Linked DNA regions of Homo sapiens. The protein of the gene in region 3 purifies or fractionates together with the protein of the main gene of each other region. This does not show direct contact. Each region holds a gene or a part of one and is shown on either strand. Other genes may lie near its edges.

Region 1 (3,652 bases), on a different chromosome or scaffold from region 3:
TGTATCTCACCTGTTAATTCAGGAAGACCAAAGTATTTAAGTATTTATCTCAATTACTAATGTTCTGAGATTCTGCATAAGACTAAATCAGTTGTGTTTGTCTTTGCAGCTTGAGAGTTTTTCCAGCAGTACCAGCTCCAGCCAGGATCACCCTCTCTACTCTGGGCACCCATCCCTTCCACTAAGTGGTGCTATTGCTGCTTTTGCCTCAGAGATTGAAAACAAGGGGACTATGGTAGAGACTGCCTTGAAGGAACCTCAGGGCAACCTCTACCAATGGGGTCCCCTTCCTGGGATTCCCAAAGACAACAGTCCTCTCAGAGAAAAATTTGGAAGTTTTCTATGCCACAAGGATAATTTGGATTTGAAGGCTGAGGGACCTGAGCGACACACAGACTTCCTGCTGCCCCATGAGAGAGCTAGCCAGGATGGCAGTGGTTTTTCCCGCATTCTGAGCATGTTGGCTGATTCTACCAGTACACAGGAAAAAAGGCGACGTAGCTTTCCCGACATTGAAGATGAGGAGAAATTTCTCTATGGGGATGAAGAAGAGGATTTAAAGGCAGAATCCGTACCAAAGCCCCTTGGGAGCTCTGAGAGTGAAGTTATGAGGCAGAAGGCAAGCTCCCTGCCGTCTTCAGCTCCAGCTGTAAAGCTAGAATCACTAGAAGAGACCAATCCAGAATATGCGAAGATCCATGACTTGCTCAAGACAATAGGGCTGGATATTGGAGTAGCAGAGATTAGTCAATTGGCTGCACGCACCCAGGAACGACTTCATGGCAAGAAGCCATCATTACGCTCCTCAGCTGACCGCCGTTCCTCAGTTGACCGATACTTTTCAGCTGACCACTGTTCCTCAGTTGACCACCGCTTCTCAGCTGACCGCTGTTCCTCAGTTGACCACTGCTTCTCAGCTGATCGACGTTCCTCAGATCCCCACAGACTAGAGAGCAGGGAGGCACATCATAGCAATACCCACTCTCCAGAGGTGTCCCATCCACACCCACCTTCTCCTGTGGATCCTTACCTGCTCACAAAAAACAGCCCTCCATTCCTAAAGTCTGACCATCCAGTGGGTCATATTTCAGGACCAGAGGTGGTTGGTAGTGGGTTTCAGTCATCTGTTGCAGTCAGGTGCATGTTGCCATCAGCCCCATCTGCCCCAATTAGACTTCCACACACTGCTGCTTTATCTCAGTTTCACATGCCAAGGGCCTCTCAGTTTGCTGCAGCTCGGATACCTCCGAACTACCAGGGACCTGCCATTCCCCCTGCCTCTTTTGATGCCTATAGGCACTACATGGCATATGCAGCCTCCAGATGGCCCATGTATCCCACCTCTCAACCGTCAAACCACCCTGTACCTGAACCACACAGGATAATGCCAATAACCAAACAAGCTACTCGTAGCCGTCCCAATCTTCGTGTGATCCCCACTGTGACTCCTGATAAGCCTAAGCAGAAAGAGTCTCTGCGAGGCTCAATTCCTGCGGCCCAAGTGCCTGTCCAGGTGTCCATTCCATCACTCATAAGATATAATCCAGAGAAGATCTCTGATGAGAAGAACCGTGCTTCCCAGAAGCAAAAGGTGAATATTAGCTTTGGGTATCCTGTGCCTGAGTTTTCTGTTTTGCCATAAATTTGTATATGTTTTTTAGAAGGGGCTGAAAATTTGTAAGGCTCTTTCACTTGAAGTCGTCTGGAGGCTGCTGTCATCATCCTAAGAAGTGTATATTGTTCCTCTGTTTTTCACACATGTTTTATCATTAGGACTAAACAAAAGTCTGGCCTTGGGTCCTATTGTGATTGTCAGCCTTTTTTAAGTTTAATTCTATCCAAGTTAATGGTCTTCAAACACTGTAGATAGGAACTGGGAGCCTTGAAGTCTTCAATATGATTTCGTAGTGGAGTAGGGAACCAAAATTGGGTGTGGTGAAGGAGAATCAGTAAACCTGTTTGATCCCAGTGAATTCTGTATTCTTACCCTGTAATGATTATGAGTTAAAGTTAATAACTAGTTGTTGCTTGATAATTGAAGCAAACCAAGAAATAAACTTTGCTTGTTCTGGTTTATCTTAGAGTCCAGGAGTAACAGTAACATTTTTGACATGTTATTTATTTAAAAAATTACGTGTGTGTGTGTGTGTATGTGTGTGTATGTATACGTATATTTTATATAGAGATGGAGTCTTCTCACTGTTGCCCAGGCTGATCTTGAACTCTTGGGCTCAAGTGATCCTCCCCTGCCAGCCTCTCCCAGAGTGCTGGGATCACAGGCATGAGCCACTGTGCCTGGCCTCTAAAGTCATTTTTTATATTATCCAGGTTCATTGGGTCCCCAGCCTGTGGGAAGAAAGCAGTGACTGGGGTAAAGATATAATAATTCTAATAATTCTGATAATTTAGAGCAGTAGGTGAAAACTACATCAAGATAGGGAATACATAATAGAAGAATTTTGAGTGGAAGAGTTAATACATACTATTAATTGTAAAGGTGCTTATACCTAGCAACTCACTTTGTTTAGAAACATAAAAATGTAATGTGTCTAATTTGGTTTGCTCATAAAAGTTAAGACCTGGCTGGGCGTGGTGGCTCATGCCTGTAATCCCAGCACTTTGGGAGGCTGAGGCGGGTGGATCACGAGGTCAGAAGATCAAGACCATCCTGGCTAACACGGTGAAACCCTGTCTCTACTAAAAATACAAAAAATTAGCCGGGTGTGGTGGCACGCGCCTGTAGTCCCAGCTACTCAGGAGGCTGTGGCAGGAGAATTGCTTGAACCTAGGAGATGGAGGTTGCAGTGAGCTGAGATCATGCCACTGCACACCAGCCTGGGCAACAGAGCAAGATTCCATCTCAAAAAAAAAAAAAAAAGTTCTGAAGAAAAAAATTAGAGGGCCAGTCTCATTTTTTTCCGGTTAAAAAGTTTTAGCCAATTATTGGGAAGACAAAAAACACTTCTCTTAAGTTTCTATTGGACTTAAATACCCTGAACTTCAATCTTTAGTTTTACTGAAGTCTTTTGGGAAAGGGAATAGGTTCAATGTAGACAAAACTTTAGAGACAGTGTTTGGAGGTCATACACTTCCTCTTTATTTTCCTTTTATAAATCTAGTCCTTAAGTCAGGGCGCTGATAATACATAGGTCTATTATAGACACATACAGGCCTATTATATGCTGGTATAGTATAGACAAGCCATATTTGCTTTTTTTCATTAGGTAGTAGTATAGTTGAAAGATCATGAGCTTTAGGGCAGATATACCTGGATTGTAAATCTACTCTTAATGTGTGACTTTGAGTATTCTACTTAATCTTGTACAACTTCAGTTTTCTGACTATAAAATAGTGAAAATGTGAGGATTAAACAACATGCTACTCTGGGCATACTGCCTATGGGTTATCCCTGGTTTGCAAGGAGCAGTGAAAATAAACAACATGAAATATGTCCCTTACCTATAACACATATGGTTCCTTTATCTATGGTTCCCTTTGGAACTTAGAACCACTATCTAATAGTTGCTATCAGTGCCCTAGATCCTTCCTGCAAAAAACAAACAAACAACCTTTCTGGACAGTATAGTTTTTGAAAAGATGGACAGTTCTATTCTGGAACTTAGAACGAAATATTACTTTGACAGTAAGGTCA
Region 2 (3,652 bases), on a different chromosome or scaffold from region 3:
TTTCTGTTGCTGGCAATAAAACTTTCCAGTTATGATGCATTATGCTTTTAATACCCTGCTGGATTGGATTTGTATGTGTATTTGCAGTGAAAGCTTGTTTGCCATTTTCCTCTGATGGTGACTTTTGACCACATTTCCATAGGTTTGGAGATACTGTGTTCTCGTTAGTTTTTAAATAGTCTGTTACTTTAGTTTTAATTTCTTCTTTGAGTCATGAGTTATTAGAAGAGTGTCTTATTTTCCATATCATGGTGAGCTAATATTAATTTTTATTAAGATCAGAATGTGGCTGTAATATTTCTACATTTTGCAGTAATTTGAGACTTTCTTCATATCTTACTGTATGATTTACATTTTATGAACTTTTTTTTTTTTGAGACAGAGTCTCACTCTGTTGCCCAGGCTGGAGTGCAGTGGCGTGATTTCGGCTCACTGCAACCTCCACTTCCTGGGTTCAGCAGTTCTCCTGCCTCAGCCTCCCAAGTAGCTGGGATTACAGGTATCCACAACTATGCCCAGCTAATTTTTGTATTTTTAGTAGAGACGGGGTTTTACCACATTGGCCAGGCTAGTTTCAAACTCCTGTCCTCAAGTGATCCACCCACCTTGGACTCCCAAAATGCTGGGATTACAGGCATGAGCCACTGCATCCGACCTTAATGAACTTTTATAGATATTTTTAAAAGATTTTTTTCTGTTGGGTTCAGAGTTGTGTGTATTTGTTAATTCTGGCTTGTTAATTACCAGATATATATCTATATCATCTTTTTTGTTTGTTGTGTTTGTTTTGTTTGAGACGGGGTCTGGCTCTGTCACCCAGGCTGGAGGTGCAACGGCGCGATCTCAGCTTAACTGCAGGCTCCATCTCCTGGGCTCAAGCAATCCTCCTACCTCAGCTGCCCAAGTAGCTGGGAGTACAGGTGCTTGCCACTACTCCTAACTAATTTTTGTATTGTTTGTAGAGACAGGGTTTCACTGTGTTGCCCAGGGTGGTCTTGAACTCCTGAGCTCAAGCGAGTCACCTGCCTCAACTTCCCAAACTGCTGGGATTACAAGCGTGAGCCACCACGCCCGGCCTATCATCTGTATTTTTATAAATTGTCTTAATCTTTTAAATTTTATATAGAGATGTGTGATTTCTTAAACTTTCCTTTTTCTGTTTGTTGTATGTATTTTGATACTATATTGTTGGATGTATAGTTTAAGATGTATTTTTGTGATTGTGCCTTTAATAACATCATCTTTATCATGTTATTTTTTTTGCCTTGAATTCTATTATTAATATTGCCTTGCTTACTGTCTTTTTGTTTGCATGTGTCTGTGTATAATAACTTTGTACATTCTTTTAAACATTTAGCTAAAGAGCCTTTAAAGATGTAGCAATATCAACAAATAGATTAATGATGAAAACTAATGTAAGGTAGTAGTTATGTTCCCTGTGGTCATTTATATTTTGGCAGATATTTTAGTTAATCCTTCATTTATGGCTGGGCGCAGTGGCTCACGCCTCTAATCCCAGCACTTTGGGAGGCCGGGGCAGGCAGATCACGAGTTGAGGAGATCGAGACCATCCTGGCTAACATGGTGGAACTCCATCTTTAGTAAAAATGCAAAAAAATTAGCCAGGCATGGTGGCGGGCGCCTGTAGTCCCAGCTACTCGGGAGGCTGAGGCAGGAGAATGGCCTGACCCGGGAGGCGGAGCTTGTAGTGAGCCAAGATCGCACCACTGCACTCCATCCTGGGTGACAGAGCAAGACTGTTTCAAAAAAAAAAAAAAAATCCTTCATTTATTTTTCCAGATAGTAATATTGAGCACTTCCAGGAACTTTGGAGGGAGAAGGTAGGGAGAGCTGTGTTGGATGGGGCACGGTCAAGGAAGGCCCCTGATAAGGGGGAGATTTCAGCTGGAATCTGATTAAGCTAACCTAAGAAAAGAGCATTCCAGATAGAAGGAGCCATGATTCCAAAAGCTCAAAGGAAAATTGGGAGTATATTTGAGGGATAGAAAACCAACCTGTCTGGATCTTAAAGATTAAGGATGGAGAGGGAGACAGGGCGCAGTTCACATCTCTTAGGTCATGTTAAGGAATGGAAATTTGTTCTAAATGTTATGAAAAGCTATTTGAAGGATTCAAGCAGGGGATGACATGATCAGAAAAATATTCTTATTGTCCTTTTCTAAAGTGAGGTATAGTTTACAGACAGTGAAATACAGATTTTGCGTGTACAGTTGGGTGTTTTTGCAATTGGATATACATACCCATCTAACCTACACTCTTATTAAGATTAGTGGAGCACTGTGGGAGGCCAAGACGGGCAGATCACCTGAGATCGGGAGTTCGAGACCAGCATGACCAACATGGAGAAACCCCGTCTCTACTAAAAATACAAAATTAGCCCGGCGCGGTGGCGCATACTTGTAATCCCAGCTACCCAGGAGGCTGAGGCAGGAGAATCGCTTGAACCCGGGAGGCGGAGGTTGCCGCGAGCTGAGATTGTGCCATTGCACTCCAGCCTGGACAACAAGAGCGAAACTCTGTCTCAAAAAAAAAAAAGTTAGGTGGAGCATTGGTAATCCAAAAATCTGAATCTTAAATGCTCCAAAATCTGAAACTTCTTAAGCACCAACATGATGCCACAGTGGAAAATTTCACACCTGACCTTGTGACTGGTCAGTTAAAACATAGTCAAAACTTTGTGTTATGTTTTGAATTATTTAAAATGTTGTATAAAATTACCTTCAGGCTCTGTGTGTAAGATATTTATGAAGCGTAAATGAATTTCATGTTTAGATTTGGGTTCCTTCCCAAAGATATCTTACTATGTATATGCAAATATTCCAAAATCCAAAACAGTATGAAATCTGAAACAGTTCTGGTCCCAGGCATCTTGGGTAAGGAATACTCAACCTGAATAAAATATTTCTAAGAAAAAAGTCTTCATTCCTCTTCCCAGTCAGTCCCTAACACCAGCACCTCCAACTATGATTCTCATTTCTTTCACTATAGATTAATTTGTCTCTTCTAGAACTTAAGTGGGATAATTTAGCTTGTACTCTTGTGTTTGCCTTCTTTGGCTTGCCATAATGATTTTGAGGTTCATTTCTGTTGTTGCCTGCATCAAGAGTTCATTGAGTATACCACGATTTGTTCGTCCATTCCTCTGGTTTGGACTTTTGAGACATTTTTGAAATGTCATTGGCTAATGGAAAATGGATTGTAGAGTCTTATTCAGATATTTAATAAAGGAACACTGGTTGTCTTGTTTACAAAAGAGAATGTATTTTCTTTTAAGACTGTAGAAAGGACAGGGCCAGGAACTATGAAATCATTATCAGCATCTTAGGAATGCCTGTCTGTATGGAAGCAGATAGAAAATGATTGTACTACTCCCCTTCCCCACCTATTTTTTTTTTTTTTTTTTTTTTTGAGACGAAGTCTCACTCTGTCACCCAGGCTGGAGTGCAGTGGCGCAATCTCGGATCACTGCAACCTCTGCCTCCCGGGTTCAAGCAATTCTCCTGCCCTGAGTAGCTGGGATAACAGTGCATGCCACCATGCCCAGCTAATTTTTTGTATTTTTGGTAGAGACGGGGTTTCACCGTGTTGATGAGGCCGGTCTCGAACTCCTGACCTCGTGATCCACCCGCCT
Region 3 (3,652 bases):
TAGAGATGGGATCTCACCATGTTGGGCAGGCTGGTCTTGAACTCCTGACCTCAGGTGATCTGCCAGCCTTAGCCTCCCAGAATGCTGGGATTATAGGCGTGAGCCACCATACCCAGCTTTTGTCTCTAGTTAAAAGAAAAAAAAAAGAAAGAAAGAAAGAAAAGAAAAAGATACATACCCAAATGATTTTTTTTTTTTTTGGATCAAAGAAGGAACTTTCCAACCAGCTCTGAGACCAGCCTATTGGCAGGGATGTAAATGAGTAAACCTTACTGGAGGGCAATTATTTACTTAGTTGTTTGTTTATTTTTCAGACAGGATCTCACTATGTTGCACTGGCCTCAAACTCCTGGGCTCAAACAATCTTCCTGCCTCAGACTCCCAAGTAGCTGGGATTATAGGCACACACTGTTTCTTAACAATATCCACCTATTGTATTTATAAATATTTATAGTCTTTCTTTTGCTAGTTTTACCTCCAGGAATTTATCTTAGAGAAATACATATGTATACAAAGATGTCCACACAGGGATATTTGCTGTGGCATTGCTTATGATATTGAGATAGCAGAAGCAGTCCATCAGTGCAGAACTGCTTAAATAAATTATGGCACATCCAGGCAACAGAACAGTATGCAGCCATTAAAAAGAACGAGTGCGGTCGGGTGCGGTGGCTCACGCCTGTAATCCCAGCACTCTGGGAGGCTGAGGTGGGTGGATCACGAGGTCAAGAGATCGAGACCAACCGGACTAACATGGTGAAACCCAGTATCCACTAAAAATACAAAAAATGGCCAGGTGCGGTGGCTCACGCCTGTAATCCCAGCACTTTGGGAGGCCGAGGCAGGCGAATCACGAGGTCGGGAGTTTGAGACCAGCCTGGCCAACATGGTGAAACCCCGTCTCTACTAAAAATACAAAAATTAGCTGGGCATGGTGGCGGGCGCCTGTAATCCCAACTACTCAAGAGGCTGAGGCAGGAGAATGGCTTGAACCCAGGAGGCGGAGGCGGAGGCGGAGGCGGAGGTTGCAGTGAGCCGAGATCGTGCCGCTGCACTCCAGACTCCAGCCGGGGCGACAGTGCGAGACTGTCTTAAAAAAAAAACAAAACAAAAATTAGCTGGGCGTGGGGGCGCACCCCTATAGTCCCAGCTACTCGGGAGGCTGAGGCAGGAGAATCTCTTGAACCTGGGAGGGGGAGGTTGCAGTGAGCCGAGATTGCGCCCCTGCACTCCAGCCTGGCGACAGAGGGAGACTCCATCTCAAAAAAAAAAAAAAAAAAAGAATGAGGGTTCAGTGGCTCACGCCTGTAATCCCAGCACTTTTGGAGGCCGAGGTGGCAGGATCACTTGAGCCCAGGAGTTTCAGACCAGTCTGAGCAACATGGTGAAACCCTGTCTCTAAATTAGCTGGGTGAGGTGGCATGCCCCTGTTGTCCCAGCAACTCTAGAGGCTGAGGTGGGAGGATCACATGAGCCCCAGGAAATGGCATATCATGTGAGCCCCATGAGGTACAGGCTGCAGTGAGCCGTGATCATGTCACTACACTCTAGCCTAGGTGACAGGAGTGAGACCCTGACTCAAAAATAAATAAATAAATATATAAATAAAATTAGCTGGGCATGGTGATGCACACCTGTAGTCCCAGTTACTCCAGAGGCTGAGGTGGGAGGACCACTTGAGACTGGCAGGGTCAAGGCTGCAGTGGACCATGATCGCACCATTGCACTCCAGCCTGGATAACAGAGTGAGACCTTGTCTCAAAAAAGAAAAAGAAAAAAAGAACCACTGTTCTAATCCAAGCAGTGTCACATATTTACTATGTGGTCCTTTCCGGAAAACGTTTGGATTTATTGTGTAATCCAACCAGTAGCTCATCTTTCAGGACTTGGTTTAAGTGTCACCTCCTCCAGGAAGTCTTCGTGCATCTCTCCAGCCCCCTCCCCAGGTTTCATTCCCTCTTTCTTACTCGCACGATATCCCATCCTCCTCCATCACATCATGTATCAACTGCCTGTCGTTACTGGCTTCTTGTCTGCCATCCCCACTAGACCACGAGGCGAAGGCTCTGGGACAGAGGATACGCTCAGTAAACACTGAACTATGGTCATACAGAATCCCCTGGCTCTGTCCCCTGAAGCCTGACAGCTGTGTGGGCTTGAAGTCCAGAAAGCCCTGTCCCCTTCCTCCCCCAGTGCCTCCACGAGAGATGGGGAGACTCACAAATGTCTTGGTGTACTGGTTAAGCATGAAGTCTCCACTGACAGCGTGCTGAAAGGCTTCCACGGCAAAGTCTGGTGGTGGGAAATCCGGGAAGCCCTGGCCCAAGTTCACGACGTCATGCTCACTGGCCAGTTTCACAAACTCCACCCTGGGTAACAAATGGAGAATCAGCACCAGCCCAGCCCTCCATGGTGACCTGGACTTCGGCCTGTTTAGAAAAACTGGACAACCGGCCAGGTGTGGTGGCTCACGCCTGTAATCCCAGCACTTTGGGAGGCCGAGGTGGGCGGATCACCTGAGGTCAGGAGTTTGAGACCAGCCTGGCCAACATGGTGAAACTCTGTCTTCACTAAAAATACAAAAGTTAGTCAGGCATGGTGGCAGGGGCCTGTAATCCCAGCTACTTGGAAGGCTGAGGCAGAAGAATCACTTGAACCCGGGAACCGGAGGTTGAAGTGAGCCGAGATCGCACCATTGCACTGCAGCCTGGATAACAAGAGTGAGATTCTGTCTTAAAAAAACAAAAACAAAAAACAAAAAACACACACATACACACACAAGAAAAACAAAAACTAGACAATCAGCAACTGTCCTGGCCTGAAGATCTGCCTAAGTGTCACAGCTGGTCCCCTACATTGAGATTAGGTCAGTCAGGCACATTGTTAATCGCAGGAATCAGCCCAGGGGCTTTCCAAGTTCTTCCACCATGACCCATAGGAAGAAATCATCTTTTTTTTTTTTTTTTGACAGAGTTTCGCTCTATCCCCTAGGCTGGAGTGCAGTGGTGCAATCTCAACTCACTGCAACCTCCGCCTCCCGAGGTCAAGCGATTCTCATGCCTCAGCCTCCTGAGTAGCTGGGATTACAGGCACCCGCCACCACGCCCAGCTAATTTTTGTATTTTTAGTACAGATGGGGTTTTGCTATGTTGGCCAGGCTGGTCTCGAACTCCTGACCTCAGGTGATCCACCGCCCCCCTTGGCCTCTCAAAGTGCTAGCAGTACAGGCGTGAGCCACCACTACCGGCCAAGAAATCACCTTTGCATCATCAACCCTGTGGAGCACAAACATGGAATGGAAGCTTCATCCTTCTTGGTGCAATCTACTGCAGTATTTTCTGTCCTGTCCTATCCTACTCTATTCTTTCCAAATACTAGTTGAGACCCCCTGTACAGATTGCATGACTCCTCCTTGGATTCGTCAACACCACAGTTAAACGCTCTGCTCATATAGCCTTCACAATGGCCTGTGAGGCACATCTTGTTCCTGGACCACTGTGGGGATAAGGAGTGGAGTGACTTGCCTAAAGCCTCCCAGCTAGTACAAGGCACAGCCAGCCAGCCTTTCTACTTCCATCTCAAGCAAAGTTTGATGCTCTTGACCCTACTCTGGGCAGAACAGGGCCCCACCAGCCCAGGCACACATCATCTC

What was found.
Region 1: the proteins of KYAT1 (region 3) and ZNF318 purify together in Homo sapiens (affinity purification with mass spectrometry; 2 studies listed by BioGRID and IntAct, with this or other methods). This does not show direct contact.
Region 2: the proteins of KYAT1 (region 3) and YEATS2 purify together in Homo sapiens (affinity purification with mass spectrometry; 2 studies listed by BioGRID and IntAct, with this or other methods). This does not show direct contact.

What each region holds. Positions count from the first base shown.
Region 1 is NC_000006.12:43,352,603-43,356,254, reverse strand, and holds part of ZNF318 (zinc finger protein 318), read left to right. Parts: intron 1-109; coding exon 110-1,591; intron 1,592-3,652.
Region 2 is NC_000003.12:183,704,273-183,707,924, forward strand, and holds part of YEATS2 (YEATS domain-containing protein 2), read left to right. Parts: intron 1-3,652. UniProt on the Homo sapiens protein: Chromatin reader component of the ATAC complex, a complex with histone acetyltransferase activity on histones H3 and H4. YEATS2 specifically recognizes and binds histone H3 crotonylated at 'Lys-27' (H3K27cr).
Region 3 is NC_000009.12:128,840,433-128,844,084, forward strand, and holds part of KYAT1 (kynurenine--oxoglutarate transaminase 1), read right to left. Parts: intron 2,729-3,652; exon of another isoform or gene 2,370-2,728; coding exon 2,222-2,369; intron 1-2,221. Other genes in the region: KYAT1-SPOUT1 (uncharacterized protein LOC127739546), read right to left, coding at 2,222-2,369. UniProt on the Homo sapiens protein: Catalyzes the irreversible transamination of the L-tryptophan metabolite L-kynurenine to form kynurenic acid (KA), an intermediate in the tryptophan catabolic pathway which is also a broad spectrum antagonist of the three ionotropic excitatory amino acid receptors among others.